4 separate regions of the Homo sapiens genome follow, and regions 1, 3 and 4 are each linked to region 2. Evidence: fine-mapped expression QTL. A gene starts in region 2. Each other region holds a variant in brackets. All regions are shown on one strand. Distances are between the middles of the regions.

Evidence for each region. PIP is the estimated chance that this variant, and not a neighbour inherited with it, causes the effect.
Region 1: its variant is fine-mapped to the expression of CHKA in whole blood (TOPMed, PIP above 0.99).
Region 3: its variant is fine-mapped to the expression of CHKA in whole blood (INTERVAL, PIP 0.94).
Region 4: its variant is fine-mapped to the expression of CHKA in whole blood (INTERVAL, PIP 0.95).

Annotation. Positions count from the first base shown.
Region 1 is chr11:68,145,113-68,153,112 of GRCh38, forward strand. No RefSeq gene overlaps it. Among named protein-coding and RNA genes, the nearest start is that of CHKA-DT, 27 kb to the left of the region's middle. The variant G/A (reference allele first, on the strand shown) is at 4,451.
Region 2 is chr11:68,116,403-68,124,402 of GRCh38, forward strand. CHKA (choline kinase alpha) reads right to left here and starts at 4,986. Exons shown (of 12, transcript NM_001277.3): 1 at 4,426-4,986. The coding sequence starts at 4,775. It overlaps CHKA-DT (CHKA divergent transcript), which reads left to right and starts at 5,486. Exons shown (of 4, transcript NR_183630.1): 1 at 5,486-5,801. RefSeq lists enhancers at 2,494-2,683, 2,769-3,285, 3,711-3,840, 3,981-4,110, 4,959-5,724 and 1 more and silencers at 4,261-4,390, 4,961-5,390, 5,741-5,840.
Region 3 is chr11:68,049,247-68,057,246 of GRCh38, forward strand. TCIRG1 (T cell immune regulator 1, ATPase H+ transporting V0 subunit a3) reads left to right here. Exons shown (of 20, transcript NM_006019.4): 15 at 1-48; 16 at 417-542; 17 at 716-820; 18 at 891-1,008; 19 at 1,241-1,418; 20 at 1,495-1,649. The coding sequence ends at 1,573. CHKA (choline kinase alpha) reads right to left here. Exons shown (of 12, transcript NM_001277.3): 12 at 3,613-4,801. The coding sequence ends at 4,742. Among named protein-coding and RNA genes, the nearest start is that of MIR6753, 8.5 kb to the left of the region's middle. RefSeq lists an enhancer at 683-1,675. The variant A/G (reference allele first, on the strand shown) is at 3,687.
Region 4 is chr11:68,032,161-68,040,160 of GRCh38, forward strand. NDUFS8 (NADH:ubiquinone oxidoreductase core subunit S8) reads left to right here. Exons shown (of 7, transcript NM_002496.4): 2 at 1-49; 3 at 126-176; 4 at 763-852; 5 at 951-1,123; 6 at 4,093-4,221; 7 at 4,302-4,484. The coding sequence ends at 4,433. TCIRG1 (T cell immune regulator 1, ATPase H+ transporting V0 subunit a3) reads left to right here and starts at 6,865. Exons shown (of 20, transcript NM_006019.4): 1 at 6,865-6,959. MIR7113 (microRNA 7113) reads left to right here and starts at 704; the gene lies at 704-762. MIR4691 (microRNA 4691) reads left to right here and starts at 1,737; the gene lies at 1,737-1,821. RefSeq lists an enhancer at 6,224-6,845 and silencers at 6,737-6,916, 6,977-7,056. The variant G/A (reference allele first, on the strand shown) is at 3,588.

The DNA of each region.
Region 1 (8,000 bases), 29 kb after region 2:
GTGCCCCGTGTAGATCATGGTACAGAGTGGAGGCTCAGCAAACAGAGCATAAATGAATGAGTGAGTGAATGAATGCATGGAATCTTGGGGTGAGTTTCCCTGAAGACAGCCCCAGGGTGCTGTGGCTGTAGGAGCTGGACCGTCTAGTGCCTTGGTCTGGGGGTGGCTGAAGCTGGAGGAGGGAAAGAGGCCAGTCCTTTGCAGCTTCTGGAGGCCAGAGTCCAAGGTCAGCTTCTCTCAACAGGACCCCTCTGAACCCGGCTGACACCACGGCCTTTGGAAGCCATGTGGTCAGTAACACGCTGTCACCCTTACTGCAGTCTGTTCACCTGACCTAATGACTGGGAACCTCAGGTCTGTGACTCAATGCCCAGAATGCTGTCTGGTATGGGGGTATGGGTCACACCTGGCTCATCTCCAGGACAGCCCTGTTCTGCGTGTCTGCCAGCCAAGGGGTCACGTGCTAACCTGGCTGCCCCACTGGGGGTGGGAGGGGCAGCTTCAGGATGGGGCCGCATCAGGCCCCATCTCCCTACCAGGCCCGTCAGTGGGCACCCTGAGCCTCTCTCTCTCATTCCTTCTTTTGAGCCTGCAGCACTACTCCCCGACCAAAGCACACTTTCCCTTCTCGTCTGGAGGAGAGATGGGGCCTCGTGCCAGCTCTGCCCCTGCCTGACACACACGCTTGGCCCGTCACTGAGCCTCAGTTTCCCTCTCTGTATTTCTTGGCTGTGCAAAGGCAGTCGGGGGAGGCTGGCCCTTTAAGCTGGATGAGGCTGGTATTTTGTGTTTTTTTTTGAGACGAAGTCTCACTCTGTCACCCAGGCTGGAGTGCAATGGCGCGATCTTGGCTCACTGCAACCTCCGCCTCCTGGGTTCAAGTGATTCTCCTGCCTCAGCCTCCCAAGTAGCTGGGATTACAGGTGCCCACCACCACACTCAGCAAATTTTTTGTATTTTTAGTAGAGACGGGGTTTTGCCATGTTGGGCAGGCTGGTCTTGAACTCCTGACCTCAGGTGATCCGCCCGCCTTGGGAGGCTGGGTTTTTGAGCTTTGTGCTGTTGGGGCCCAGCCCTCAGGGCCGCGTGGGAACCCCCGGGGCGGGGTGTTCTATACCAGGAAGTAGGCAGAGGGCCAGCCCGAGGACAGTTCGTTTCTTGCCAGTCCCCTGACCTCTCTTGGCACACAGCCTGTGGCAGCAGCAGGTTGAAGCCAGACGCTGCTCAGACCTCACACCACGTCGTTTGCCCAACCCAGAGAAAGCTCTGTCCCCGGCTTCTGGCTCCTTCTCTGCCAGGACTCACTGGGTGTGATGAGTTGGTCTTGGGGCACTGTCTGGGCACAGCCTGTTTGCCCAACATGGCCTCCTGGGCTCCATGCTTCCGCAGGTGGGAGGGGTCTGGACTGGCCCAGGGGCTCTGACAGCGGCTGGCAACCTGAGGTTTTGACTTCAGGGTGACCTGAATCCTGCCGCATTATGGAGGCTGGAGTCTCTGGGGGCTGCTTTCCCAGAGAAGAAGCTCCTTCCCCATCAGCCTGACATTGGCTCCAAGGACTCCATGTGGCTGGAGGGCTCAGGGCTAAGGGGAGGGAAGCCCCGGGATGGCAGTGAGGGGTGAGGGAAGATTTGGGAGGTGACATCTACAAAGAGACCTGAGCGGGTGGGGCAAAGAGGGGGTCCCAGGCAGAGGGAGAAGCAAGTGCAAAGACCTTCATAACCCAGGGGAGCGCTGAGACCACCGACCAGCAGCACCCCCACTTCTTCAAGCCACCACTCCTCAGGGCCTCCCAGGGGTCCCCAGCCTGGAGCACCCCATGTGGTAGAGCTGGTAGGCTGGGGGACACTGGGGACTGCTGTCCCACTTGGAGCCTCGGGCTACTCCGCCCAGGAGCAGCGATGTGGAACCTTGTTGGATTTTCATGTTCCCAAACATCCAGGAGACACACAGTTGTGAGTTTCCAGCCAGGCGATCTCTAAGGCCAGAGCAGCCCTTGTGGGTGTCAGTGAGGAAGGGCAGAAAGACTCTGGCCTCAAGCTCAGCTCCCTGCTGCAGGGAGTTGAACGCCCCTTTGGTGAGTGGCTCTAGCTAAACAAACACGTGTTATCATCTGTCAATAGCGGCCACCTCCTTGCTGGCTGGGCTGCTGCTGGCTCAAAGCCCAGAGCAGCCCTTCCGGGGCACTGCCTGCCACAGCCAACAGTCAGGGAAGGGCAGCTACTGCCCTGGGTTCAAGCCCGGGCTACCCCTGCTCCTGCTCACTGTGTGTCCCCAAGCAAGTCACTGTCCCTGCCTCTCTGTACAGTGGGAGGCCTGGATCTCTCTGCTCTGGGAAGACACCCAGCCCTGGAATGGTTGGGCCACACTTGGGGCTGGGGGCCAGGAGGAAGTTGGAGGGCTGGGCTGGGGCTGGGGCTGATTAGTTGAAGCCAGTAGAAAAGTACAGGCTTTGCTATTAGATTCCAGGAAATAACAAAAGCTGCTAACAGTTACCGAATGCTTACCACGCACCCGACGTGGTGCTCACGCATCTTTTGCTGTTTTATTTCATCCTTAGTGAGTTGGGTACTATTATCATCTCCATTTTACAGAGCAGAAACTAAGGCTCAGATAGGAGACGCTGCAAAATCAGGAGGTGGTGAAGACAGAATGTGCCCCTAGGGTGCTGATCAGGGCCCTCACCTAGAGGCAGATGCCCCCATCTCCTAAGGTCAATGGTCCTCAGCTATCATCCCTTTTTTTTGTTTTTTGAGGTGGAGTCTCGCTTTGTCGCCCAGGCTGGAGTACACGATCTGGGCTCACTGTAAGCTCCGCCTGCCGGGTTCACACCATTCTCTTGCCTCAGCCTCCTGAGGAGCTGGGACTACAGGCGGCCGCCACCACGCCTGGCAAATTTTTTGTATTTTTAGTAGAGACAGGGTTTCACCATGTTAGCCAGGATGGTCTCGATCTCCTACCCGCCTCAGCCTCCCAAAGTGCTGGGATTATAGGCATGAGCCACCACGTCCGGCCAGCTATCATCCCCTTTTAAACTTTCTGGACTGGCCACGCTGAACTTCTCACCCTCCTTTCCATAAGACACCCTGTCCTTCCATGTCTCCAGGACTTTGCAGGTGTCCACCGCCTCTGCCCTTTGGGCTTATGAACTCCTATTCATCTCTCAGGACCCTTCTTAATTTTACCTCCTCCATGAAGCCTGCTTTGCTTGGTTCCCCAGCAGAAACAGGGGGCACTCTCCTTGGTCCTCCTGCCACGCTTCTTCCACACATGCATCCTGGCAATTACCACATTTTACTGATGTTCGTGTGTGTTTCCCTGGAGGGAAAGGAGTGGGTTTCAATCACCCCCATATCCCCTGTGCCTTTTGAGTGACCAGCCGTTATTCGGCACTCAAATAGGGAAGGCTGTCAGGGGAGCAGCTGACTGCAGAGAGACTGCCTTGGAAGGAGGAGAGGCCCGGGGGTGGAGCGGAGGTTTCGGGTAAACAGAGGCGGCCTGACTGACAGAGGGGCATCAGCCAGGGGAAAATAGAACCGGGATCCAGGATCGTCTGAGTACGCAGCTGAGCTGGAGAAGGTTGTAATGAAGGCAGTTTGAGCAGGTGTCAGCTGAGGAGGGCAGAGGTTAGGGGCAGAGCAGGGCGCATGAGGTGTCTGGGGTGCACCCACAGACTGTTGAGGCAGGACACGGGTACCAACTGACTTGGGTGCCAGACCCATGTGAAGGGCACGATGGGCACTCTCCTGCTGAATCCTCAACAAACCCAGAGCGCTTTCACTCCCTCTGCTTTACAAGTTACAAATCTGAGGTTTGGGAACAAGTGAGGCAGGGCAGGTGCCCCCCAACCTTGCCCCAGGCCAAGTGGGTGCCTGAGTCAACTCTGGTCCACTTGGATGACAGTCATGTGCCACCACACCTAGCTCAGCCTCCCCAGCTTGCCGCTTACCGCAGAAGAAAAACATGGTTTGACTAGCAAGAGGAGGAAATTAGAGTTTTGTGTATAGAAGAGTCACTCTGGGCCGGGCGCAGTGGCTCACACCTGTAATCCCAGCACTTTGAGAGGCCAAGGTGGGTGGATCACTTGAGGTCAGGAGTTTGAGACCAGCCTGGCCAACACGGTGAAACCCTTTCTCTACTAAAAGCATAAAAATTAGCCGGGTGTAGTGGCAGGCGCCTGTAATTCCAGCTACTCGGGAGGTTGAGGCATGAGAATCGCTTGAACCCAGGAGGTGGAGGTTGCAATGAGCCAAGATCGTGCCACTGCACTCCAGCCTGGGCGACAGAGTGAGACTCTGTCTCAAAAAAAAAAAAAAAAAAAAAAAGGAAAAAGAAGAGTCACTCTGGAGAACAGCTAAGTCCAAGACTCCTGGCCTGTAGCTTCCAGTCACGTTCTATCAGTGCTCAACTTGCCATCCCCACTGAGGCTGGTGTGATGAAATCAAAATTACCT[G/A]ACCCCGGCCTGCTGCTCAGGGAGTAACCACACTCATGAAGAGTGGCAAAAGTGTAACGTGCTTTGCAGACGTGCTTATGAGATGTAAATTGCCTTTCGGTAAATAGAACCCTGCTTCCCATTCATGTAATTATAGCTTCCAGCCTCTGCCCCATGAGAGAAAACACTTGTCCTGAGGGGAATCACAGTAATAATTTAGAGAATAACACAAGAAACCTTCTCCTCATCAAATGCAGTTATTCCTTTGCCCCGGATGACATTTCTGTCAAGTCGCTATTAAAATCACCAAGTCCAGGCTGGGCATGCTGGCTCACACCTGTAATCCCAGAAGTTTGAGAGGCCGAGGTGGGTGGATCACTTGAGGTCACGAGTTCAAGACCAGCCTAGGGAACATGGTGAGACCCCGGCCCCCACCCCCATCTCTACTAAAAATACAGAAAATTAGCTGGGTGTGGTGGTCTGTGCCTGTGGTCCCAGCTACTTGGGAGACTGAGGTGGGAGGATCGCCTGAACCCAGGAGGTCGAGGCTGCAGTGAGCCAAGATTTCACCACTGCACTCCAATCTTGGGCAACAAAGCAAGACCTTGTCTCAAAAAAAAAAAAAAAAGAAAGAAAGACAGGAAAAACAAAACAAAACGAAAAAAACACTAATCGTCAAGTCCAGCAGCCTGCCTGGCTGGAGGAAACCTCGGACTTCCTTTGCTGTCTCTAGGCATGCTCCGCTCCCCTCCAGTTTGACTCACCCTTTCAGATAACAAGAGGCCTGCCCCCATGGAGTGCCTGAGGGCCAGCAAACACCTGTGGCTTCCTAGGAGCCCGTGCTTTGGGCAGTGGCACCTCTCCCACTTTTCAAGCTCCCTAAGCATATTTGACAGTGGGCGTGGATCACCCCACTTATCTGGGGCATAATCTTTAGACAGACTTCTCCTGGCCCCACATAACTGCATGGAAAGTGGGTAGAAAGCAATGATTCCTATTTTTCGCCCATAGGGATTCTTTTTTTTTTTTTTTTTTTTTTGAGACAGAGTCTCGCTCTGTCACCAGGCTGGAGTGCAGTGGCGTGATCTCGGCTCACTGGAACCTCCGCCTCCCAAGTTCAAGCGATTCTCCTGCCTCAGCCTCCCAAGTAGCTGGGACTGCAGGCGTGTGCCACCACACCTGGCTAATTTTTTGTATTTTTAGTAGAGACAGGGTTTCACCGTGTTAGCCAGTTTGGTCTCGATCTCCTGACCTCATGATCTGCCTGCCTCGGCCTCCCAAAGTGCTGGGATTACAGGCGTGAGCCACCGTGCCCGGCCTTTTTTTTCTTTTAAAGAGATGGATCGGTCTTGCTATGTTGCCCAGGCTGGACTCCTGGGCTCAAGTGATCCTCCAGCCTCAGCCTCCCAAGTAGACCCACAGGAATGCCGAGGAGACAGAGACTTTCAGAATCACCCTGGCAAAGGTGGGGCTGCGCAGCTGGGGCTGGGGGTCTCTGGAACACTGGCAGCTCTGTGGTCCTTACCTGTGCTCTCTAGATATTTGAGATGAGCCTGGGCAATATAGGGAGAAGCCCGTTTCTACAAAAAGTAAAAAAATTAGTGGGGCATGGTGGTGCGCACCTGTTGTTCCAGCTACTCAGCAGGAGGCTGAGGCAGGAGGATTGCTCAGGTCTGGGAGGTCAAGGCTACAGTGAGGCATGGTCACACCACCGTACTCCAGCCCGGGTGACAGAGTGAAACCCTGTCTCAAAAAAACAAAACAAAAACAAAAAACAAGCTGGTGCCTTGGAGCCTGGGGTTAATGTCTGCCTCTGTCACTTGCCACCAGCTGCACAATCTCAGGCAGGCCGATTTCCTTGTTTATTAAGGCCCCAGAGCACCACCACCCTGAGTGGGGTATTCCCCGTTCGTTTCCCCACAGGCCCAGTTTCTGTATGGCTCCCTGTATGGAGTGTGGTAGCCCCCCAAGGCATGTTGCTTTGTTCCCTGAGCCCCAGAAGCCTGCACTCACTGGAAGTCCACTGGAGGCCCACCATGAAGGTTGTCTGCCATCCTCTTGGGTGACCCATGCCATGATTTCTCACAACTGTGACCACTCCACTACCAGGGTCCCGACTAGGACCTTGTTCTCACAGGAAAGTGTGGCCCCTCCAGAGCTCTGAGCGCCTGTTCTCCGCCTGCCCTCCACACTTGCTTACTGCTCCAATGCTTGGCAGTCCTCTGCCCACAGGGAGCCTCCAGGATTCAAACACCTCCACCTTCACCTGTCTAGTGACCCACTCAGCTCACAGACTTGCCTTTTCTTCCCTAACCTGCAGGTATGCACGGCTTCTCATGCAACCCCTTCTCCTGCCAACCTGAACCCTAGGGCCCCCAGCCCTGCTGTCTTCTGTGGTCTCCACCTGGGTAAAGGCCCACGTGTGCCTGAGAGGCTCACACCTGTGCAGGGAAGTGCTGGCCACCAGCCTGGGCTCAGGACACTGACCTGGTACCTTGAAAGTGATGAGTAGATATTTCTTTAATGAATGATAACTAGGTTTCTACAGTCAGCATGCTTTCCCATTCTCAATTTCAAACCTCCTTCTTACTCCTCAAACCTCCTGGCCCTCCTGTCTTCACTCTCATCTGCCTCCTACTTACCAGACAAGAGAAAACCTCACTCTGGACTGGCTCCCTCACCACATCCCAAATCCTCTTTTCCTCCTGGAAGGAAGACGGATCTACTCTCTGAAGACCCCCCTGAGGCCCTACTCCAAGTAACTCCTTCACTTTCTTTCTCAGAACACACTTACTATGCAAGCTCCCCGCCTCCAAGATTCAACTTGGGTCTCCTATTAATGAAATGAACCTCCTCCCTTCCCAGTGGTCATCCTCTCTCGTTCCTCCTTCACAAACTTTGCCTCCACCCTCTCAACCCATCCGGCTCTTCCTTGAAGCACTGACCTAAGCTCAGCTCTCCGAAGTCGAGGACCAACAGCGGGGGAGCAGCCTTTCCTGCCGCCCCCAGGCCTCAGTGAGGGTGGGTGCAGGGGCTGCCCTCAGCCAGCTCCCTAGGCTAGCTCACTGCTGTGGTCTGAGCATGGCCCCAGGTTCATGCTGGAAACTCAGCCCCCAGTGCAACAGTGTGTTGAGAAGTGGGGTCTAAGAGGCAATTCGGTCATGAAGGCCCTGCCTCATGAATGAATGGATTAATGCCATTATCGTGGGAGTGGGCTCCCAATAGAAGTCAAGCCCCTTCCCCTCTCTGCAGCACGGGACGATGCAGCAGAAAGGTCTTCCTCGCCAGAATCGGCCCCTCCATCTTGAACTTCCCAGCCTCCAGAACCATGAACCAAACAAACGTCTATTGGTTCTAAATTGCCCAGTCTGTGATATTGTGATAGCAGTACAAAGAGACCAAGACACCCACTCTCATGGCTTTGATTTTACCCCACATTGAAGATTCAAATCTTGTTCCCTGCTCCAAACCCCAAGAACGTACTAGGTGCTCAAACAACACGGAAGTGCACCTTCACTCCTGCCACACTGGGCCCCAGCTGCTCAGGGCCTCACACTGGTTCCAGCGGTCT
Region 2 (8,000 bases):
CTACCAAAAAATACAAAAATTAGCCAGGTAGCCAGGCGTGGTGGCTCATGCCTGTAATCCCAGCACTATGGGAGGCCAAAGCAGGCGGATCATGAGGTCAGGAGTTCAAGACCAGCCTGGCCAACATGTGAAACCTTGTATCTACTAAAGATACCAAAAAAAAAAAATTTAGCTGGACATGGCATGTGACTGTAATCCCAGCTACTCGGGAGGCCGAGGCAGGAGAATCGCTTGAACCTGGGAGGCAGAGGTTGCAGTGAGCCGAGATCGCGCCATTGTGCTCCCGCCTGGGCAACAGAGCAAGACTGTCTTAAAAAAAAAAAAAGAAAGAAAGAAAGAAAATGCTAATAACATACTATTGATTTGATAGGCAGGGACAGAAGTTAGTATTAAGTTGTGATGTCTGGAAATGAACAAATTTTCTAAGTGGTCAGCTCATTAACAACAACTCTCATGTTAGGACAATTTTTATTTTTCCCTATACCACTCATAGTTGAAGAGACTCAGACAAGGATCTCCGTTCATCACACAGCAAAGAGGCCAACTTAAGCTAAAAATGACAATTTCTACACTTATCCAGTTCCGGTGTGCCAGGCACTATCCTAGTGCTGGAGATACAAAGATGAACGTGAAATGCCCTCTAGGAATTCAATCTAACAAGAGAATGGAATGAATAAACACACACACAAACGTGTTAAGGGTTGTGATAACAAGGCCTGCATGTACAAAGTGCTAAGGATGAGACACAGAGGGGAAAGAAATTCAGTATGTCTGGTTCTCTCTGAGTTAAGCCTTGAAAGAGGAATTTTAAAGGAAACACACCAAGGGAAAGGCTGCCAAGCAGAGGGTAGGGGCAAAGAAAGGCCTGGAAACTGAAAACACAAAGCTCATTCAGAAAATGCAGGCTCCAGTGTAACTAGCTCAATGTTAGTTGCTGTGGTTCTGGAGAAGGAGTGATTTTAAAACAGTAATAACAAAAAGAACCAGTCTAAAAAGTTAGGCCGGGCAGGGTGCAGTGGCTAACGCCTGTAATCCCAGCACTTTGGGAGGCCAAGGAGGGTGGAACACCTGAGGTCAGGAGTTCGAGACCAGCCTGGTCAATATGGTGAAACCCTATCTCTACCAAAAATACAAAAATTAGCCGGATGTGGTGGTGCATCTGTAGTCCCAGCTACTCGGGAGGCTGAGGCACAAGAATCGCTCGAACCCAGGAGGCAGAAGTTGCAGCTAGCCGAGATCACACCAGCCTGGGTGACAGAGCAAGACTCCATCTCAAAAAATAAATTTAAAAATAAAAAATAAAAAGGTAGGCCAAGGCTCAAGTTTAGACCATGCAAACAAGTTTGGATTTTATTTTCCAATATTTGAGAAATCCATAGCAACAAGATACAGAATGGATTAGAAGGAACACACAAAATGCAAGAAGATCCTAAGGCACCTCCTGTTCTAGTGTCTAAGCAAGGACAGCAAAGGGACCAGACAGAAGGTGGGGATACAAAAGTAGCTCATCAGGTTTGAGTTACAACTGTGTGCAGAGGAGGGATTTCTGGGGGAATGCAGAGTTAGAAATGATCCTGGGGCTCTGGCCAGGCTGCTGCTACAAACGCAGAGCGAAAGCAGAAGCACATTCCTGGGTGGGGAGGAGCCAAAGGGTTAAATTTGGAATAGGAATGCACTGAGTTGAGGTGGTGAAGTCTCATCAACTACTGCAGATGCACTGGCACTCAGTGAAACACGGAGCTCCAGAAACGGATCGGGGCCAGGTATGGTGGCTCAGGTCTAAAATCCTGGCACTTTGGGAGGCTGAAGCGGAAGGACTGCTTGAGCTCAGGAGTTCAAGACCAGCCTGGGCAACATGGCGAAACCCCATCTCTACAAAAATACAAAAATTAGCCAGTAATGGTGGTGCGTGCCTGTAGTCCCAGCTACTTGAGAGGCTGAGGTGGGAGGATCACCAGAGCCTGGGAAGTCGAGGCTACAGTGAGCTGTGATCACACCACTGCACTCCAGCCTGCGCGACAGAGTGAAACCCTGTCTCCAAAAAAAAACCAAAAACCAGAATCAGATTGGGAAATGTCAGTAAAATTTGATAGCTGGAGCCATAATAACTGCAACTGCCTATGGAGAATCACTGAATTTCAACCAGACGAATTCCTCTCCTTCTCCGCACCTCCAAATGCCCTTGTGTCTTTTTTAAAAGCTAGACATCACCCACTTTCCCATGTCCTAAATCACCTTTTTTTCTCCTTATTAAACTTATTCCATAACTACGTTCTCTTTCAGAACACAGGACTGAGAGAGTGTACTCTTGCAACATTATGTAAAAAGGTCATCCAATCCAAAAGGAAAGCTGTGTTTTCCAAGACTGCTAACTCCTGGAGAAAAGAAACAAGACATCCTCAATGCTTTCCTAATAACTGGTTTGAGCAAAATGCAAAAGTTTAACTGCTGAGTGACTCTCCCTGGAGAAAGCCATGAAAATATCTTAAGGCTGGATCTAGGGTGTCCAAACATTTTCACAGGCCGCAGGCTAGAGCACTGGTGCAGGAGAAGGGGACACCAGAGACCTGGCAGTTCAGGCTTTGAAGGCAGTAAACAGCCACTGACCTCAGGCAAGTCACTTCTCCTTTAGGTTTTCCATTTCACAGACTGATGAGTACATGGCCTAAAATGATCGCCCTTCTAGTTGAGAATTTTCAGGCCTAACTAAAAGTAGATTAAAGTAAACCTTGGAGAGAGCTGAATTTTTTTTAAGTGCCATTAAGCAATTCAGGGATTATCTAAACAGCCTCGGTTTTCTTTTCTCTGCTTCCTTACCAACTGCCTATTAACTCTCACTCTTAGCTCATAAGCAGTCAGAGGGGCTGAAGCACAAAGAGGAAGTGAAGCTCAAAGAGTTAATTTTGCTGCATTAGCGGCTCTGGTGAAAGACAGTGGGCACAGAAAAGGAATCAAATGACCAAAACTGGACTTGGGGATTACTGGTGGCAGCCAGCCAGCAAATTTCTAGATACTGCACACAACCTGTCAGCCAATTAAAAGAAAATTGGCAGAAAATGACGGAACACGTTCTTTGTTTTTGTTTTTTTGAGACAGTCTCTCTCTGTCAAAGGCTGGAGTGCAGTGGCGTGATCTCGGCTCACTGCAACCGCCGCCTCCCAGGTTCAAGCGATTCTCCTGCCTCAGCCTCCCAAGTAGCTGGGACTACAGGTGTGCGCCACCATGCCCAGCTAATTTTTGTATTTTTAGTAGATATGGGGTTTCACCATGTTGGCCAGGCTGGTCTCGATCTCCCGACCTCGTGACCCGCCCACCTTGGCCTCCCAAAGTGCTGGGATTACAGGCGTGAGCCACTGCGCCCGGCCCGGGAACACATCTTTAAAGGTCTCAATAGAAGGATGCACACACTACGTTGAATGGTTATGTCTTCGGAGCAGAGTGGTGAAAGAAGGTCAGACTTCTGTTAAGTCTGAATACCTACACGCGTACTTCTGTAATTCAAATTTAAGATTAAATATTTTCAAGTTTAAAAAAAGGAAAAAATGGCCGAGCGCGGTGGCTCATGCCTGTAATCCCAACATTTTGGGAGGTCGAAGCGGGTGGATCACCTGAGGTCGGGAGTTCAAGATCAGCCTAACGAACATGGAGAAACCTTGTCTCTACTAAAAATACAAAATTAGCCGGGCGTGGTGGCGTGTGTCTGTAATCCCAGCTACTCGGGAGGCTGAGGCAAGGAGAATCGCTTGAACACGGGAGGCCGTGGTTGCAGTGAGCCGAGGTCGCGCCACTGCACTCCAGCCTGGGGACCAAGAGCGAAACTCCGTCTCAAAAAAAAAAAAAAAAGGAAAAAACATTTCTACCTTACTCTTATTTTAGGAGCCACGCCTCCCACCTTTGTCTAGTAACACAGCTATAGTGATGTCTCTTAGGGGATGAGAAAATGCTACTCCTCCACTAACAATGACTCTTGGAGAGGGAACAAGACATCAAATCGCGAACTCGAAAAACTAACAGAAAAAAGTTAAAAAGTGGTTTGTGTTTTTAAAGCCAGCCACAACACCTTCATTCAAGGCCCTAAACCGCAGAGACTTTCTAGACCTATCTTAAGCGTCAGTACCACACGCACTTCGTGATGGAACGGTATTGTTCTCCTAGAACAGACCCGTTTTCTCATGAAACCGACGTTTTTACAAAAGCCTGTTTGTGGACGGCCTGCGGCGGCCGCGAACCCGCTTCCCTTGGATTACCCAGGGCTGGGAGAAGGAGGGCTTTCGCCGGCTGCGGTCCCCGGTCCCCGGCCTCCGCCCCGGCCCCGGCTCCCCCGGCCCCCGACCCCCCCGGCCCACGCCCCCTGCCCGGACCCCGCCCCGGCCCCGCCCCGCGTCACCTGACTGTCCCGCGGCCCCCAGACCCGGCGCCACCGACCTGATGACACTGATGTGGAACTCGTCCTCGCGGAGGCCCCGCCAGGCGCCGGGCAGGAACTCCTTGCACCACAGATAGGCCCTGCGCCGCGTCCGGGGCTCCGGCTGCTCGTCTGCGGGCGGCTGCGGCGGCGGGGGCTGGGGCAGCGGCAGCGGCAGCGGCAGCGGCGGCGGAGGGGGCAGCGCGAGCGGCGGCTGTTGGCCGCCCAGCTGCTTGGACTCGAGGTCGCTGGCGGCGTCGCGCTGCTGCCCCACGCCGGGCGCCGGGGCCGCGCTGCCGCTACCGCAGCTCAGCAGCAGCCCGAGCGGCGAGGGCTCCGCCTCGCCCCCGGTGCAGAATTTGGTTTTCATGCCCGACAGGCGGCCGAGGAGGCGCGGGCGGCCGCAGCGCGAGAGGACTAGGCTCAGAGTCCGGCCGGGCGCCCCCTCGCCGCTCTCTCACTGGCAGGCCGGCGGGGCAGGGGGCCGCGGCGGTTGGGCGCGCGGGGCGGCGGCGGCGGCTGCGGCGACTGCGGCGACTGTGGAGCGGGGATGTGCTGCTGGCCGCTGCACTCGCTCCTCTGCCGCCGCCGCACGAGGAGCGCCGGCCGCGTCACAGCCCGCCCTCGCGCTCGCCACTGATTGGCCGCCGTCCGCCGGCCCGGCGCATCATAACCGCCGCCGCCCTCGCCACACCGCCTCCCCATTGGCTGCGGCGCCGCCCCCAACCCAGAGCGCTGCGGCCTCCGTGAGCGGGGCCTGGGCGAAGGGGGCGGGGCGTCGAGGGGGCGCCCCGGCGGTCGCAGGGAAGGGGGAGAGGGGAGCGAGGCGCGGGGGGCGCCGGGAGAGCGCCTCCGCGGTGGGACGGAGCCGGACTGGGCCGAGCGAGGGAGGCTCCTGAGCCTCGGAGGACCCCGGGGTTGGCTTTGGGAGCTGAAAGTTTCCTTGGACCCCTCGGAAGCCCCGTGACATCAGAGGCCGGGCCTGGCAGGGGCAGGCAGGAAACGTGTCTGGAGGCTACTGCCCTCTCCGCGTGACCTTGGGCGAGCAGCCTCCTCCTGGGGCTCAGTGGGTGTGATTTTGTAACATTTCCCAGCGCTGCCACAGGCGCGTCTCGCCCTGTCCAACGCGGAGCCCGAAGAATTACTAAGAAACCGAGGTCTGAAGGAGGGAAGAGGTGACGGGCTCGAGGCCACACGGTGGGCCAGGCTGGGCCCGGCTGCACGCCGGCTACCGGGGCCCAGCCCTCTGCACGCCTCCCGCAGCCTCAGTTTCCCTGTCCGTGGTACTGAGGATGCTCGGGCCTAGAAGTTCAGGGCTGGAGGCCCAGGGACCGTCGAGGGAGGGGCATCATCCCCGCCATGGGGCCGCCGCAACTGCCCAGAGCACAGGCCAAAGGTGCGTGCCACGGGGCTACTGGCGTTGTGGACGCTGCCCCTGCCTCCCCATCCCCCGCAGGAAACAGCCTTGTGACCGTGACTAACGCACCTTTGCCGGGGTAGAGGGGCAAGGGCCCCTGCTACCGTTTGCCACACACTGCCCCATGTCCCTCACTGCTCCCGTCCTTCCTAGAAGTGAGGTGCTGATACATATAAAAATTATGGATCCCATTTTATGGGACATGAGCTGAAACAGGAGGTTTCCTGGGCTGCCAGGGGCTTAGGAAATCCAGTGCCTGATACACAGGAAATGCTTCTATGTGGGGAGTTCACAGTCTTCCAGAAGCAAAAATGTTTTTTGGTTTTTTTTTTGAGACGGAGTCTTGCTCAGTCGCCCAGGCTGGAGTGCAGTGGCACGATCTCGGCTCACTGCAACCTCCGCCTCCCGGGTTCACGCCATTCTGCTGCCTCAGCCTCCCGAGTAGCTAGGACTACAGACGCCCGCCACGACGCCTGGCTAATTTTTTTTTTTTTTTTTTTTTTTTTTTTGTATTTTTAGTAGAGACGGGGTTTCATCGTGTTAGCCAGGATGGTCTCGATCTCCTGACCTCGTGATCCGCCCGCCTCGGCCTCCCAAAGTGCTGGGATTACAGGAGTGAGCCACCGCGCCCGGCCGCAAAAATCTTTTAGAGTGTGTACTTGGCTGAACTTGCTCCACGCAAAATGGTCTTATTTAAGGATAAAAATGAAAGGGGACTTTTGTAAGGCTGCTGTGGCGACAGGCCTGGAAGTTGACCTGCAGGGAGGTAGGAGAGACCAAGGCCCCTGGGACGGAGGCCGGCCACTGGATGTTTGAAAGGCTGAGAAGCCAAGGGCTTCAATCTGGGGAGGCCGTTTGGATAAAGGAGCCAAGGACTTTCTCTAAAAATACCGGCTCACAGGGAGGTGGGGCCATGCCAATGGCCTGCCCAGGTGACAAGCCCTTTGTCCCACTGTCCCCTGGCACCAGTCTGGTAATCTCAAAGGAATGCCAGAAATCTGGCCAGGAGGAAGGGACACTAAAGTAAGGAGTGGCCCTCTATAATTTGAAATAACTCTTTCTGGCATCTGCTGGCTTTTGTTAGGAAAAGCCTCAGACATTTTTATGGGATCACAGTTCCCTGTGGGAGGAAGAGGTTGCCTCAAGGCCAGGCATGGTGGCTTATGGCTGTAATCCCAGCACTTTGGGAGGCCAAGGCAGGAGGATCACTTGAGCCAGGAGTTTGAGACCAGCCTGGCCAACATAACAAGACTCTGTCTCGCCGGGCGAGGTGGCTCATGCCTGTAACCCCAGCACTTTGGGAGGCCGAGGTGGGCGGATCACAAGGTCAGGAGTTCGAGACCATTCCGGCTAACACGGTGAAACCCCATCTCTACTAAAAATACAAAAAAAATTAGCCGGGCGTAGGTGGTGCATGCCTGTAGTCCCAGCTACTCGGGAGGCTGAGGCAGGAGAATGGCATAAAACCCAGGAAGCGGAGGTTGCAGTGAGCCGAGATCGCGCCACTGCACTACAGACTGGGAGACAGAGCGAGACTCCGTCTCAAAAAAAAAAAAAGACTGTCTCAAAAATTAAAAATGAAAAAAAAAATTAACAGAGCATTGTGTCTTACACTTGTCCGACTACTTGGGAGGCTCAGCCAGGAGCATCACTTGAGCCTGGGAGGTCAAGGCACCCACTGCACTCCAGCCTGAGTGACAGAGTGAGACCGTATTTGCTGAATGAATGAATCAGTGAGCTCCTGGCTCAGCAATTATTAACTTATGACTTTGGGCTGAGCCTCGGTTTCCTCAACTATAAAATGGGGATTATAATACCCCGAGCATCCAGGATTGAGAGAATGTATGCAAAATGCATAGCATGCAAGAAGTAACCGTTTGGTTGCGTGCAGTGCATTGCATGGCGTTGCCTCTGCCAGTGGTTGGTTTTCGGAGATGAATAATGCATGCACTTGTAGCATTTCACAGCTTGGGAAGACAGTGTCGTATAAGAAAAGAATTTGGGCCGGGTGTAGTAGCTTATGCCTGTAATCCCAGCACTGTGGGAGGCCAAGGTGGGAGGTTTGCTTGAGGCCAGGAGTTCAAGATGAGCCTGGGCAACAAGTGAGACCCTGTCTCTACAAAAAATAAAATAATTGGCCAGGCACAGTGACATGTGCCTGTAATCTCAGTTACTTAG
Region 3 (8,000 bases), 67 kb before region 2:
TTCCTCTTCTCCCACAGCCCCAGCAACAGGCTGCTCTACCCCCGGCAGGTGGGCTGCGGCTGGTGGGGGCCGGGCTCACACGGCCTCATGGGGACCCCGCGGTCACAGGGCCACTGGGAGCTGCAAGATCCTCGTCCGAGAAACGGGGATGCAGGCCCCGGGCCGTGCAGACAGGGCCGTCAGAGGTGATGGTGTGCATCTTTAGCAGGTGGCACAACTGGCACTGGGAACCGGGGGTCCCTTCCCTCAGGAGTCCTTATGGAGGCAGACCCTCACCCAGTGAGGGCACGGAGCCCCCGGGGGCCCTGGAGGGAGGAGCGACCGCAGGCTCTCTGGGCCCCGTGACTGCTGTGACTCAGGTTCCTTTGCAGGTGTGCACAGCAGGGACGCCCTGACTCTCGCCCTCTCCCTGGCAGGAGGTGGTCCAGGCCACGCTGGTGGTCCTGGCCTTGGCCATGGTGCCCATCCTGCTGCTTGGCACACCCCTGCACCTGCTGCACCGCCACCGCCGCCGCCTGCGGAGGAGGCCCGCTGACCGACAGGTGGGACCGGGGCCTAAGGTGTGGGGGGCTGCTTGCGGGGAGAGGCCACTGTCCGGTGTGTCCCTGACTCCTCGCTTCCTGACAGACTCCTGAGTGGCCAGGAGCAGGCCTGGCGGGTGGTGGGGGACCTCCTGGGGCTGGAGTGCTGCCAACACTGCCTGCTCATGCCCCAGGAGGAAAACAAGGCCGGGTTGCTGGACCTGCCTGACGCATCTGTGAATGGCTGGAGCTCCGATGAGGAAAAGGCAGGGGGCCTGGATGATGAAGAGGAGGCCGAGGTGGGTGCAGTGCCTTCCTGGGGGTGGGACGGCTGAGGCCCTGCCGGCCCTCACTGCACCCGCCCCGCAGCTCGTCCCCTCCGAGGTGCTCATGCACCAGGCCATCCACACCATCGAGTTCTGCCTGGGCTGCGTCTCCAACACCGCCTCCTACCTGCGCCTGTGGGCCCTGAGCCTGGCCCACGCCCGTGAGTGACCTGGCCACCGACGGCTGGCCCCAGCTCCTGGCTTCTCACATACCGCTGCTGGCTGGGCGGGTTGCTTCTCTCTGGGCCTCAGTTTCCCCTCTGTAAAGTGGGACTGTCCAAGGAGGTCCCTCGCTGGCCCCCCGTGCAGGGAGGGCTTCAGGCTGCGGCAGGTAGGTAGGGGGCTGGCAGGCACCCACTTGCCGTTGGCCCCCACTGTCTCCTTTGCTTGCAGAGCTGTCCGAGGTTCTGTGGGCCATGGTGATGCGCATAGGCCTGGGCCTGGGCCGGGAGGTGGGCGTGGCGGCTGTGGTGCTGGTCCCCATCTTTGCCGCCTTTGCCGTGATGACCGTGGCTATCCTGCTGGTGATGGAGGGACTCTCAGCCTTCCTGCACGCCCTGCGGCTGCACTGGTGAGCGACCACCCACTGGCCTGGGCTGCTCAAGGCGTGAGTTCCCCTCACCAACCCCTCTGCTTCTCACCCCCAGGGTGGAATTCCAGAACAAGTTCTACTCAGGCACGGGCTACAAGCTGAGTCCCTTCACCTTCGCTGCCACAGATGACTAGGGCCCACTGCAGGTCCTGCCAGACCTCCTTCCTGACCTCTGAGGCAGGAGAGGAATAAAGACGGTCCGCCCTGGCAGTGATGTCTCGTCTCTCTTCCCTCCTTTTTAGCTGAGGCAGGTGGCAGGGTAGAAGGCATGGTGTAGGATCTGGGACCTCAAAAGTCAAGGCCTGGACCTGAGCAGATCTGCAATAATGTCAGACTCTTGGGGTGAAAAGGGGCAGAAAAGGGCCAAGGAGAGATGTTTCCAGCACATTCTAACTTGGAGTGAGCAAATGTCTTCCCAGGCCGGGTCAGGGGAGTGAGCTCCCCATCCTTGGAGGTGTGCACCTGGCTGTGAGCGGGTGTCTGGGTTACTCTCTGTTGGGAGTGGTGCCAATATCCATGCCCTGGTGCCGGGCCTCAGGGGTCTGGAAGTACAGAGCAGTGTGGGGCACCTGAGCCCCGGCCAGTGCTCCATGCAGGGCCATGGTGTCACACGCCCAAGGCCACACACCTGCCAGGAAGGGTAGAGGCTGTCCCCAGCAGCAGACATTACCCAGGACCCCGGGGTTCAGAACAGGGGCTGAGCCTGACTCCAGGCCCAGCCTCCCCTCACCTGAGACTACAGTCTTCCTGATCCCTCCCAGGTGGTCCTTCCTGCGTTGCTGGCAGAATGGGGGTGGCTTTCTGCAGTTCCCTCTGGCCTGGGTCCCACCCCCACTGGGAGGCAGAGGAAGTGCTTCCCAGAAGCCAACAAGCTGCAAAGTGGTTCTTCCCACAGCTGTGGCTGAGGCCAGCTGCTGGGAGGAGCCTGTCCATTGGCTCCTGGACTGCTTTGCTCAGGACCTCTGGATGCCAGGGGTCGTATCAGGGGCTCTAAGGTAATTCCACATGCCCAGCAGATTCAGCTTAGAGAAACGGTGCTCACAGTGCTGGGGTAGGAGCAGAGAAGGCTAAATGAAGGACTCCGGAGAGCTGCAGGTGGATCTGGACCAAATCCAGAACCCAACGCCTTACTCCCTCCTGGGGAGAGAGCTGGGCAGAGACTTGGGGCGGGCAGTGAGGTGGGGATAGGTGAGCAGCACTCGTGGTGAGTGGCCCCAGTGTGATTTAGGAGGGGTGCAGTGTGGGATCCCAGGGACATGACCAGTCAGCCCCGCCCTGGCTTTGACATGGGGGTGCCTGGCAGTGGTGGCTAGAGAAGTCCAGTTTGCCAAGAGAATGGCACATAAGGCACTGGGGTGGGCACCTCTGGGGCATGGACATAGGGAGACATAGGGATGGGGTGGGTCACCTGCGTGGAGGACTGGGCACTGAACAGCACAGGCCCGAGCCCATCCTTGTCCACGTGAGCTTATGGCCTGATGTAGAGACCACCAGGGGCTCCAGGAAAGTTAAGCTGCATGGAGAGAAACGATGGGCCAGGGCCGGGCCCAGGGTGGTTTAGGGAATGGCAGTGTCCTGGGTAGAATAGGAAGGCCTGAGACTGTGACTGAGCTGACAGTGGGGCAAAGTGAAGGAGCCCAGTATTGGAAGATCGGCTCCACATGTATCTCTGCGAGGAGACTGCAAGCGAGCTCGTGTGGACCAGGCAGAGGCGAGGGCTGAGTGAGGCCAGCAGTGGCCTGGGCACAGGAAGACGGTGAGTGAGAAGCCACTGGAGCTCCTGTGCAGGAGCGCAACACCTTTACTGCTTCATTCAGTTTGGCTTCACCTGCTTAAAACTGTAACTCTCTAGAAGGCTGAACAGCAAAAGCCTCCCTCCTGCCCAGCCGCTCAGCATCCCCAGGCACCAGCACTGCTCCCAGTCTCCAACGTCCTCCAGGGCTCTTCGCTTCTGGGCTAGAAGCAGGGAAACCAGAGTGTGCTGGGGAAGAAGAGGAGGAGGTGGAGGAGGGCTGATGATGGGGCCACATGCTGCTGGGATGCCAGCTGAGAGCAGCGGAGCACTGCTAAGCTAAGGGGCTGAGTGGGTGCAGATGGAGCCCTCCGTGGGCTCCTTCAGGTACCAGGAGCCCTGCCTGAGATTCAGGACACATCCAAGGGTGACAGCTTGAGGTTGGGTTTTTATTTTTTTATTTGTATAGTACAATCTCTGTGGTAGCAGAAATATATGCACAAAAAACAATTCAA[A/G]TAAGAGTTCAGAGTAAAAAAAAGTCAGCTAAGACTGTATCCCGCAGGACATTTCATATATATGGATTTCACAGCTACACTCGATCCACGCCCCACACCACATACAGGCTGCTGTCTCCCACAAGAATGATGATGTCAGGGGCATCAGGAAAGGTAAGGGCCGGGAAACCGGGCCCTTGGAGAACCCTGCCCAGGGGAGGCCCAGCCTACTCACAGGATCCGACACTCCAGGCAGAGCAGAGGGCAGGAGAGGCCCAAAGAGCTAGGTCAAGCAGCTGGCTCCCCTGGGAGGGGAGCCGGGAGACAGGGAGGTCCTCACACTGCCCCCGTGGCCACGCATGGCTGTCTGCACACTCCATCAGGAGGAAGGGCAGGGGAGAAGTCACATGCAGTACAGTGAAACTCATCAGTGTCACACACGCCCAGCAGGAGGGGAGAGCTCTGCTCCACACGCTGGCGGCCTTGGCTGCTCCAGAGCAATCCGCTGCTCCAGCTTCAGCCATGGGACCAAGAGGGTAAAGGAGCAGCTTCTGGAGGCCCCAGGCAGAGGCCACCTTGCAGCAGTGACTGGCGACTTTGCAGTACATCTCTGCTCACTTGCTGTCCCTTGGGAGTGAGCACCGTCTATAACACATCGCCATCTACAAAAGCCTGGTCACAGTGTTCACCAGCACATTCATGAAAATTTAAATCAACATTAACCAAAGTACCTGCAAGTAACACTGCTTACTCTTGCTGTTTGCCTCATCTGACTGGAAACCTTAGCCCCCAAATATGAAATGCCTTCTCTAGATTAAAAGGATTCAGAGATGTTGCACTATTGCACTATATTTCTGCTTCCCGATCTCGTTTCTGAGTCCTAGTGAAATCGTAAACAAGAGATGAAATAAACGTCGCTCCATTTTAATACCGTCTTTAGTATCATACACATGTGTTCAGTAGTGAGCCACCCAAAGCCTCCTGCCACAGGAGCAGTAGTCGAAGCACAGAGGGGACCCCGCTCTGCTGCCTCCCCATGCAGTCCAGTGATGAGGTGGATGGAGTCCTCCCCACAGTCACACCCCAAGCTTCCTCTTCTGGTGGAAATAGGCATCAAACCTTGCTTGGGCGTAGTCCTAGGAGACAGCAAAGAGAAGGCCTCAGCAAGGAATCCTGCTGGCCTGAACCCTGCCCATGTGTCCCCCAATCCCCACCCCAGGCAAGAGCTGAGGGCACGGACCCATGAGACCAAAAGCACAGGACTGGCCTGTGCAGCAGGGCTGCTCGGGGGCCTCGCTGCTCTACAGGTGCAGGCTCCTCAAGCTCCCAGCCCACCCCACACACCTTCATTCTCAGGAGGCCTGGTTTATAGGCATGGGCCAGCCCAGCCCTGCCTCTCAGGATGAACGTCTCATCCACATGCTTAGCACTGCTACCATTCATCACCTTGCTAACCCTGGGTGCTGTGGGCACTGACTGACCGACATAACACACCTTTTAGAGCAAAAGACCCCTGGGACACAGGCGAGTCTAGAACAGAAGGGGAGAAGAGGATGCCCATCGCCTATTTCCCGGGATCTCCTGCAGCATGACTTTTAAGAAGGACACTGAGAGGCAAGGGAGAAAACCCGGCTTGGTGTTCTGTTTCTGCCACTATTTTTCTGGGATTGTGTTGTGTGAGGACAACACAATCTCAAAGACCCACTCCTAATCTAAAAGTCTGCAATTCTAGAAGCCAGGAAGATTACAATTAACTTTTTTGAAAAATTAACTGAGCTGTAATTTCTACTCTACAAGCATGAGCCCATTTTAAGTGTCCAGTTGAGGGCCTTCACAGATGCATCCAGCCAGTTCTCCACCACCGCAGTCAGGAGACCTGTGTTTCCAGCATCCCTACAAGCTCCCATGGGCCTCTTGCAGTTGGCCACAGGCAGCCACCGACTCAATATCTGTCACTATGGACTGGACTTTTCTTTCCTAGAGTAGCACATAAATGCCACTATACAATATGCAGCCTCGTGTCTGGCTTCTCACTCAGCGTGCTGTCTCTGAGTGGCCTGTGCTGTCATGCACTGGTGCCACCTTCCTTTTGCACTGCCGAGTGTTCTCAGTACACGGATCTGGCACTGTCGTATCCACACACCTGCTGACTGGCATTTAGGCTGCTTCCAGTTTGGGACGATTATAAATGAAGGTGCAGACCGGGCGAGGTGGCTCACACCTGTAATCCCAACACTTTGGAAGGCCAAGGCAGACGGATCACTTGAGGTCAGGAGTTTGAGACCAGACTGGTCAACACGGCGAAACCCCCTCTACTAAAAATAAAAAATTAGCTGGGTGCGGTGGCGGGCGCCTGTAATCCCAGCTACTCAAGAGGCTGAGGCAGGAGAATTGCTTGAACCCGGGAGGCGGAGGTTGCAGTGAGCCAAGATCGGGCCACTGTACTCCTCCTGCCTGGGCAACAGAGTGAGACTCTGTCTCAAAAACAGACAAACAAATGAAGCTGCTATGAGTGTTTGAGTGCAAGTCTTGGTGTGGAATTTGTTTTCATTTGTTCTGGAAAAATTCCCCAGGAGGGCTGCTGGGTGGTCTAACCCATCTTCACACTGGCTGTCGCGACTGCATTCCCAGCAGCAGCGCATGCGCATTCCCATTGCTCCATGTGCTCGCCATTTGGGACCGTCAGTTCTTTCAAGTTTTAGCCATCACTGTGGGTGTGTAGGGTATCGCAATGAGGCTTTGATTCACATTTCTTTAATGACTAATTATACAAAACACATGAAAAGATTCTTACTGGCCATGTGTTTCTCTTAAGTGTCCAAATCTTCCATCCATTTATAAAGCAGGCTGAGGCCGGGCGCGGTGGCTCATGCCTGTAATCCTAGCACTTTGGGAGGCCAAGGCGGGTGGATCACCTGAGGTCAGGAGTTCGAGACCAGCCTGACCAACACAAAGAAACCCCGTCTCTACTTAAAAAAAAAAAAAAATTAGCCAGGCATGGTGGTGGGCTCCTGTAATCCCAGCTACTTGGGAGGCTGAGGCAGGAGAGTCGTTTGAACCCAGAAGGCAGAGGTTGTGGTGAGCCGAGATCGCACCATTGAACTCCAGCCTGCGCAACAAGAGCGAAACTCCATCTCAAAATAATAATAATGAAGCAGGCTGTTTGGTTTCTGGCTGAGTTATGAGTTCTTTATATATCCTAAATATGAGTCCTTTATTAAATATACATTTGTAGTATTTCCTCCCAGTCTGTGGCTTGCCTTTTCATTTTCTCCATGATATCGTTCAGAGTTACTCATTTTGATAAAGTCCAACTGTGATGACATATATGTGTGTTTTTGTCCAGGGTCCCTGGCTCATAACTCCCATAGCCCTTACTACAGTAAACAGAATCTCTCTCTCTGACCTTCTGCCGTCCTTTCACCTGCCCAAAGCTAGACTCTAATCTGACTGTGGGTCATAAGACTCTTATTCCAGAGGGGGTCCTGCACCATACCCTGGGATAAGGAATGCTGTACAGAGAAGCCCGAAGAACCTGGTCAGGTCTTGCTAGGTTTAGATCACACCTTTTTTGTCCAATCACATTTCAACACGGTTGTCCACATTTCAATCATGCCTATCCAATGACATCTCCATAAAATGCCCAAGAGGACAGGGTTTGGGGAGTTTCTAGAGAACTGAATGTGGAGGCTGACAGGAAGGTGAACAAGAATGAGTTCCCCAACCCACCCACAGGGACAGAAGCTCCTGTGCTGGGAATCCTTTCAGACCTCACCCCACCTATTTATCTCTTCACCCTTAAAATACCCTTTGTTAGCTAGGCATGGTGGCGGAATGTCTGTAGTCCCAGCTACTTGGAAGGTTGAGACAAGAGGATCGCTTGAGCCCAGAAGTTGGAGACCAGCCTGGGCAACACAGTGAGACCCTGTCTTAAAAAAAAAAAAGTAATACACTGGTAAACTTACGTGTTTCCCTGAGTTCTGTGAGCTGCTCTAGCAAATTAATTGAACCCGAGGGGAACGTGGGAACTCCAATATATGGCTAGTTGGTCAGAAATTCCAGAGGCCTGGACTTGCAACTGGTGTTGGAAGTGGGGGGCAGTCTTAAGGTCTCAACCCTCAACCTGTGGGGTCTGACTCTGTCCCCACGTAGACAGTGTCGTAATGGAATTGGAGGGCACCCATCTGGTGTCCACTCCAGAACTGATTACTTGTTTGTTGGCGGGGAGAACCACCCCTGACGTGGTCACTTTAGTCTTCTGTGGTGATGATTGTTGCTGATGAAAGGAATGGGAAAAAGCACTTTGGTTTTTATGTGTTTCCTGCTCACAGCAAC
Region 4 (8,000 bases), 84 kb before region 2:
CTGACCACGCCTATGCTGCTGCGGGCCCTGGCCCAGGCTGCACGTGCAGGTAGGACCAAAGAAGCCTTTGCTGGGGGTAGGGGAGTCCAGTCTCCTGGTATGACGTCACGCCCTTCTTTTTGCAGGACCTCCTGGTGGCCGGAGCCTCCACAGCAGTGCAGTGGCAGCCACCTACAGTGAGTACCTGGGTGGCCTCTAGCCTCAGGTGTTCCTGACTGGTCCTGCTGGAGTAGGGGAAGAGACCTGAGTTCCAGTCCTGGCTTTGTCAGGGGCGTTCTTCTCTGAGCCTGTTTCCACTTTTAAAATGATTATGGTGATGGAGACTGACTCTGATTCACAGGGGCAGGGTCCATCATTGCCGAGGTTAGCATGTGTGATCTCAGAGCTCCCTGGGTGTGATGGGGAGGGGGTTGCCAGGTGTGAGCCATGGGTACCTGTGCCTATTGCCAGTCCCTGGTGAAGGCAAAGGCTCAAGCCCCCCACCTACCCCCCTTGATTCCTCTTTCAAGCCCTGTTGGGCAGGGAAGTGCGTCTGGGCTCCAATGGCCACCCAAGCACAGGGAGAGGTAGGCACGGACGGGCTCAGGCCAGAGGCGGCCTCCAGGGTCCTTGCTGAGGCTGGGGAGAGGTGTGGTGAGTGTACAGCCCCTTTGTAGCCCAGCAGTTGCACCTGGAAGTGAGGGCCAGGCTGCTCTCCCTGAGGCTCCAGGGAGACAGTGTGTGAGGCCTCTTGCCATGGCCTCCCTGCCCGCCTCTCTGCAGAGTATGTGAACATGCAGGATCCCGAGATGGACATGAAGTCAGTGACTGACCGGGCAGCCCGCACCCTGCTGTGGACTGAGCTCTTCCGAGGTGCGTCCTGGGCATGAGGGGACAGGGAAGGTGCCGGGTGGGCACGGATGCATGGGGGAGGAGGGTGCCCCTGCCCACCACACCCGTGCTGCCCACAGGCCTGGGCATGACCCTGAGCTACCTGTTCCGGGAACCGGCCACCATCAACTACCCGTTCGAGAAGGGCCCGCTGAGCCCTCGCTTCCGTGGGGAGCATGCGCTGCGCCGGTACCCATCCGGGGAGGAGCGTTGCATTGCCTGCAAGCTCTGCGAGGCCATCTGCCCCGCCCAGGTGAGCCCCTGCCCCAACCGGCCACCACGCCAGCCCCTGCCACTGGGAGAGGGAGGCCAGGCAGCCCTAGGCCCAAACCCTAGCCCCTGCTTGATGTGCGTCCCCAGGAAGTCCCTTTCCCCCTCTGAGCCACTTCCCTCGTGAATGGGAATGATGAGGGCTTGTTACCAGAGCACAGAGTCAGTGAGTTGGCAGAGTGAAGCTTCCAGCCCTGGGCAGGCGCCTGACACACAGAGGTTCCCCCTTGGGGTCTGGCCAAGGGTGTGACCCCTGGGCCTCTGAGCCATGGGGTGACACCTGAGGCCATCCACGCCTCCCTGGATGTAGCCACCGTTTCCGGAGTCCTGCTTGTGTGCCTGTTGCAGCTTCCCTTCCCCAGTGGCTGCTCCCCTGAGGCCCGGCTTTCCGTTCTCTTAGTGGGTCTCGTGCTTACCCGTGGGGGCCAGGCCTGCCAGCACGGGAACAATATGACTCGGTCAGAGCTCTGGTCAGACCCCTGTGTGTGCCTGGCAGGAGCCCCGGCAGCCGCCGCCGCTACTTTCTGTGTGCACAGCAACCCCTCCCAGTGTTCTGTGACTCGGGTGGCTCCTGTCCAGATCCTAGTTTGTCCTCTGGAGCACTCCCAGGTCCTCCAGGCCATGAGCTGCGGCCCTGATGTCTCTACTCCAGCCACGGACTGAGAGTGCATAGGAGTGTCCCCAAACAGCAGTCACGATGGTCACAACCTTGGCTTCCAGACAGTGAGTGCTGTCCACAGACAGACCCGGTGCTGTGCCATGTGTGTGACTCACAGCCTCTCCTGTAATCTCCACAACCCCTCGAGGAGGTCGAGGTTATTGTCTCCATCTTTATAAGCACTAAAGGATGAGCCTGCCAGCCACAGGTCCCACTGTGAGTTGTGGACACTACATTTCTGGGATGGGGGCATATGAGAGTCCTTGCCAAGCACATTTGAAGGTTTTCCCAGCCAGCCCCTCCCCCAGCGGGCTACCCAGGAACTGAGAGTTAGGACGTGCCCTTGAGTTTGGGCTGTGCCCCCACTTGCTGTGTAGCTTTGGGGAGCCCCTCAACCTCTCGGAACCTTGTTTTTCTCATCCATCAAATGGAGAGAAGTAGATTTAAGGCACAGGATTGCACCCAACAGTGTAGGCATTCTTGGCGATGTTGCAGGTTCGGCTCCAGACCATCGGGGTAAACTGAGTCACACAGCTGTTTTGGTTTTCCAGTGCATTTAAAAGTTAGATTTAGACCGGGCACAGTGGCTCATGCCTGTAATTCCAGCACTTTGAGAAGCCGAGGTGGGCGGATCACTTGAGGTCAAGAGTTCGAGACCAGCCTGGCCAACATAGTGAAACCCCGTCTCTACTAAAAATAACAAAACTTAGCCGGGCACGTTGGCAGGTCCCTGTAATCTCAGCTACTTGCTAGGCTGAGGCACGATAATCACTTGAACCGGGAGGTGGGGGTTGCAGTGAGCCAAAATTGAAAAAAAAAAAAAAAATTAGGGCCGGTTGCGGTGGCTCACGCCTGTAATCCCAGCACTTTGGGAGGCCAAGGTGGGCGGATCACAAGGTCAGGAATTCAAGACCAGCCTGGCCAACATGTTGAAACCCCGTCTCTAGTAAAAATACAAAAATTAGCCGGGTGTGGGGTTGCACACCTGTAGTCCCAGCTACTCAAGAGGCTGAGGCAGGAGAATTGCTTGAACCTGGGAGGCGGAGGTTGCAGTGAACTATGATTGCACCACCATACTCCATCCTGGGCCACAGAGCAAGACTTCGTCTCAAAAAAAAAAAAAGGATTTACACTGTACTGTAGGCTGCGAAGTGTCTAAAACACAATGTATATACCTTAATTAAAAATACTTTAGGGGCCAGGCACAGTGGCTCACACCTGTAGTCCAAGTGCTTTGGGAGGTCAAGGTGAGGGGATTACTTGAGCCCAGGAGTTTGAGACCAGCCTGGGCAACATGGCAAAACCCCGACTCTACAACAACAACAAAAAATACAAAAAATTAGCCCCTGTAGGCCCAGTTACTTGGGAGGTTGAGGTGGGAGGATCGCTTGAGCCTGGGAGGTTGAGGCTGCAGTGAGCTATGAGCTGCACCACTGTACTCCAGCCTGGGTGACAGGGCAAGACTCTGTCTCAAAAAACAAAAACAACAACAAAAACTTTATTCCTAAAAAGTGCTGACCCAGAGATAAGAAGCAAGCACATGGTTGGTAAAATGACATCAGTGAGCTTGCTTTATGCAGGGTTGCCCCAAACCTTCAATTTGTAAAACTCAAAATATCTGGAAAGCTTGGTGAGGCGAGGCGGGACTGTAACTCAGCACTCACCGCAGGGTGAGACCCTTAGGGCAGCGGGTGCTACACTGAACAAAGCGGTGAACAGCCCCCTCGTGAGAGGGGGTTCTTGGCAGATGACGCCAGCAGCTGACAAACAGGCAAGGCAGGCCGGGCAC[G/A]GTGGCTCACGCTTGTAATCCCAGCACTTTGGGAGTCCAAGGTAAGCGGATCACAAGGTCAAGAGATCGAGACCATCCTGGTCTACATGGTGAAACCCCATCTCTACTAAAAAATACAAAAATTAGCTGGGCGTGGTGATGCACACTTGTAGTCCCAGCTACTCAGGGGGCTGAGGCAGGAGAATCACTTGAACCGGGAAGGCCGAGGTTGCAGTGAGCCGAGATTGTGCTGCTGCACTCCAGCCTGGCGACAGAGCGAGACTCTATCTCAAAAAAAAAAAAAAAAAAAAAAAAACCAGCAAGGCAGGGACGCCAGCAGGGCACGTGCTGAGGAGACAGGCGCGAGCACCAGAGGTGCAGGGCGGCCTCTTAGCCGGAGTCCAGGAGGCCTTTGAGGGGAGAGGGCTTCTGGCAGACCCCAGGGGTGGGGATGAGCAGTGACAGGGGCCCTGGGGGCTGGGATGTGACAGGGCAGCGTGGCAGTGTCTGGTGGCCCCTCCCGCAGGCCATCACCATCGAGGCTGAGCCAAGAGCTGATGGCAGCCGCCGGACCACCCGCTATGACATCGACATGACCAAGTGCATCTACTGCGGCTTCTGCCAGGAGGCCTGTCCCGTGGATGCCATCGTCGAGGCACGTGAGGCCCCCGGGTGGGAGGGGGCCTGAGGCTCCTCAGCAGGGCCTAACCACCGTCCCTGCACCTCAACCTGCAGGGCCCCAACTTTGAGTTCTCCACGGAGACCCATGAGGAGCTGCTGTACAACAAGGAGAAGTTGCTCAACAACGGGGACAAGTGGGAGGCCGAGATCGCCGCCAACATCCAGGCTGACTACTTGTATCGGTGACGCCCCACCGGCCCGCAGCCCCTGCTGCCCAATAAAACCACTCCGACCCCACGGCCTCTTGTCTTGACTCTGGTGGTCCAGGGTGGGGCCGTTCCCGGCCTGCCTGAGGCCTGTGGTGCCTCCAACTGGACTAGGTCGCCACCTAGTCTTTATGCTCTCTGGAGTCCTGCTGCCCCAGCCCTGCCTTCCTGTAGACTCCAGGGCCCCACCAGGCTCTCATGGCTAGACCACAGGCCGCAGCATCCCTGTCACCCTGCCTCTTCCTGGGCGTCTTCCCCAAGGCCCAGCGATGCCAGAGGTCACCACAGACCTGCCGTTCCCACTCTCCCGGGTGTCCTGGCTGGGGCCTGGGCCTCCTGTCTCCCAAGAGCCATCCACTTGTAAGACGCTTAGGACTTGGAGCCTCCCAAGACCTCAGGCTGAAGAACAGCAAGTGGCAGAAACTCAGGCCGGGGCATCCTTGCTGGGGGTAGGAGGAAGCCTGCTTGGGGTGACAGTCACACGAGGGTGACACAGGCCCTGCTGGCCCTGAGCTGGCCTGCGTCCAGCCACATCCTCTTTCCTGTGTTCCCTACGCCAGGGTGCTGGCCCGGCCACTGCTCACCACTTCCTGCTTTGCTGGCCCAGCGACACGGTGGGGTTTCCCTAGGGCCACACACAAGCCCCTTGCCCATATAATGGCCAAAAGCAGCCCCCCTGAACTTGTGCTAAGTACTGTGGAAGGATTTCACTTCATTTGCAGTGAGGAAACCAGCTCCGAGAGGTGAAAGGGCTTGCTCAGGGCCATGCAGGGCACATCCCATAATAAAACTCAGTTCAGAGACCTTGACCCCCCCCATCTACCATCATTTCCAAAAGTGCTTTTTACAAAGCACTACTTTGTAAAAAGCTACTTCTTCGAAAGAACAAGTTTCCTGGCCCAGTGAGTGTTGGAAATGCTCCAGCTGCTGTGTGCCTGCTGGCAGGTACTGCATGGTAGACATTCAAGGCTCTGAGAAGGCCTGCAGCAAAAACACCAGCCTCTCCCAGCCCATTCCCAGGGAGCTTTTCTCAGGTCTAACACCTGGGCCTCCTTCCTAGACCAGGCATTGCCATCTAATGCCAAAGTGGCCAGGCTCCCGCTTGGGCCCCACAGCCTGTGGCACTGGGGTGAGAAGTAACTGCAGGAGGCGAGGGGAAGCCTGGAGCCCGGGAAGTGTCCACAGGTCTGGCCCGCAGCTCATCTTGGCCACTGATGAAAACAGGTGTTCTTTCCAAAAACAAGGCAGGCGCAGGACTCCTGAAGCACCGCCGGTTTAGCTTTTCCCAGACGTAACCGCCGTCAGAGCGTGGCATGGAGCCTGTAGCTGTGCACTGAATACTTCTATTCCAAGCGGGTCAGTCTTTCCAGCTCACCGCTGGGTTCTTTCCCTTACCGTGGTCTCCCAGGCACTTACTGCTGAGACCCCACTCAGGCTGTCTGGTTGTATCAGGCCCCGACCCTGTCAGAACAGGCCTATGGCGCCCAACCACAAGTCCCCCAATTTTCTGAGGAACCACAGCTGAGCTTGGCTGTGACTCAGTTTCCAGGCCCGGCTCTGGGGCTCCACTTGTCCACCCCTGCCGCAGCCCCACAGGCCTGTGCTCGCTGTGTGGGGCTTAGGGATCACCAGAGCTGAAGGGCCCCTGGCCTCCAGTGGGAATGCCCCAGGCCTGTCCAAAGTGCAGGCAGCTGGACGGTCGTGAGTCCCAGCTTCCAGGCACTAGGACCTGATGACGCCCATGGTGCTGACCTGGAGCAAGGTCACAGTGACACCCCCCTCTACCCCCCGCGGCTGCAGCTGCAGGTGGAGCTGACAGCTGGCCTCTGGCCCCAGGGTATCTCCCAGGGCCTGCTGGGTGCGGGGCGCTGGGCAGAACAAGGCAGCATGGCCTGGCCCTGTGTCCTGCTGCCAGTGAAGCAGGCCCAGAGTGGGGCAGCCACCCACCCAAGGGCCAGAGCGGGGCCTCTCCAGGGTGGTCAAGAGCAGGAAGGTGTAAGCACCGGCGGGTTTCACTGCCGCCCAAGGGAGGGGTCCCGGAGGTGGGGGAGCATCCTGGGGACCCCAAGCCCATGAGCCTGCGAATGTTGGGGTCCCATCAGCCAGAGGCGCACAAGCCTCGAAGTGAGAGGAGAGCAGGGTCTCATCTCCTATCCTGAGCTGGGCCTGAGCGGAGCTGCCCCTGCATCGGGGCCAGCATAGACGCGCGCGGTTGGCAGTGGTCTGTTATCCGCTCCTTTCTCCAGGCCTCCTCTCCGGGATTAAGCGCCTCAGGACCCGTCCGCCAGGCCACAGCCTGGGCTCAACCTCTCCCAGACTTCCTGGACTCCAGTGGAGCCTTGGGCCGGGGGCGGGGCGTCCCTGGCCCCTCCCCGTCGTCCCGCCTGCCCGGAAAGGAGTGAGCGGCGCCTAGTCCCGGGCTGGCGGGAGTGCAGTTCTGAGTCCCGCCCGGCGTGCGCGGAGCGGGGCAGCCAGCAGCGGAGGCGCGGCGCGCAGCACACCCGGGGTGAGTGCCCCTGCCGGGGTCTGCGGAGCCCCAGAATTTCCTGCCCACCCTCTTCCCCCTGCCCCGGGGAGGAGATCCTGGCGCCCCACCCAGTTGGCTCCGTGAATGCAGCTCAGCCCGCCACCCCGCAGGGTGTCAGGCCTTGCGGGGGGCCACGGAGGATCCCCAAGGGAGGAGGAGAAGGATGGGGTGTTTACCAACACAGCCCAGCGTTCCCGGGCCTGGTGTGCGCGGAGCTTTCCCCGCTGCTGCTTCCTTGGAGGGAGGGACCCATTCTACAGATGGGGAAGCTGAGACCACACAACTAGGAAGTGTCAGAGCTGGAGACCAGCTGGGTCATTTGACTCCAGAGCCCACCCCATTTGGAATGGAGGGGGCGCCAGACCCTCTCCTACTGCCTTCCCATCATCTGGAGGGGAGGGCAGAGGTGCAGAGAGACCTGCTGGGTTCCTGGAGGGGCCAGGAAAGGGGCACAGGGTGAGGAGTGGGCTGGAGCCTGGACCCCAGGGCCGCAGGATGGAGGCGTATTCATTTACACCATAAAAGTGGCTGGGTGACCCTGGCTAGAGCGGGGACCAAGGGGGACAGGGGTAGGGGGTGAGCCAGTGGAGCCTCACATGCCAGGCACGGGGGCTGATCACGTCCCCACACCTTTCCCCCCGCCCATTACAGGTTGTTCCCCCACCCCCTGGGAAGTGCTGGAAGGAGCCCGGCCCTCGAGCCCTCGGCATAGTGGCTGTGGGAGCCCTGATGGCCCTGAGCCAGGGGTGACCCCTCCCCAGATCCCCAGAGCTGATTCCCCACACCTCCTTATTTGGCCAGCACAGCCCCAAAGGGAGCCAGGTCAGACACAACCCTCCTCTGAGCTCACCCTTTGTGCTGGGCACATAACATTGGACTTTACCTCTCCAAGTGTCAGTGGAGTCCTGTATGAAACAAAAGCACCGTACCCCCTCCCCAAGGGTTTCTCCCCCCAGGGATTAGTGTGAGGTCGTGTGGATGAAGGGATTCAGTTGAGGCTCTGGTTATTTTTGTCACCTC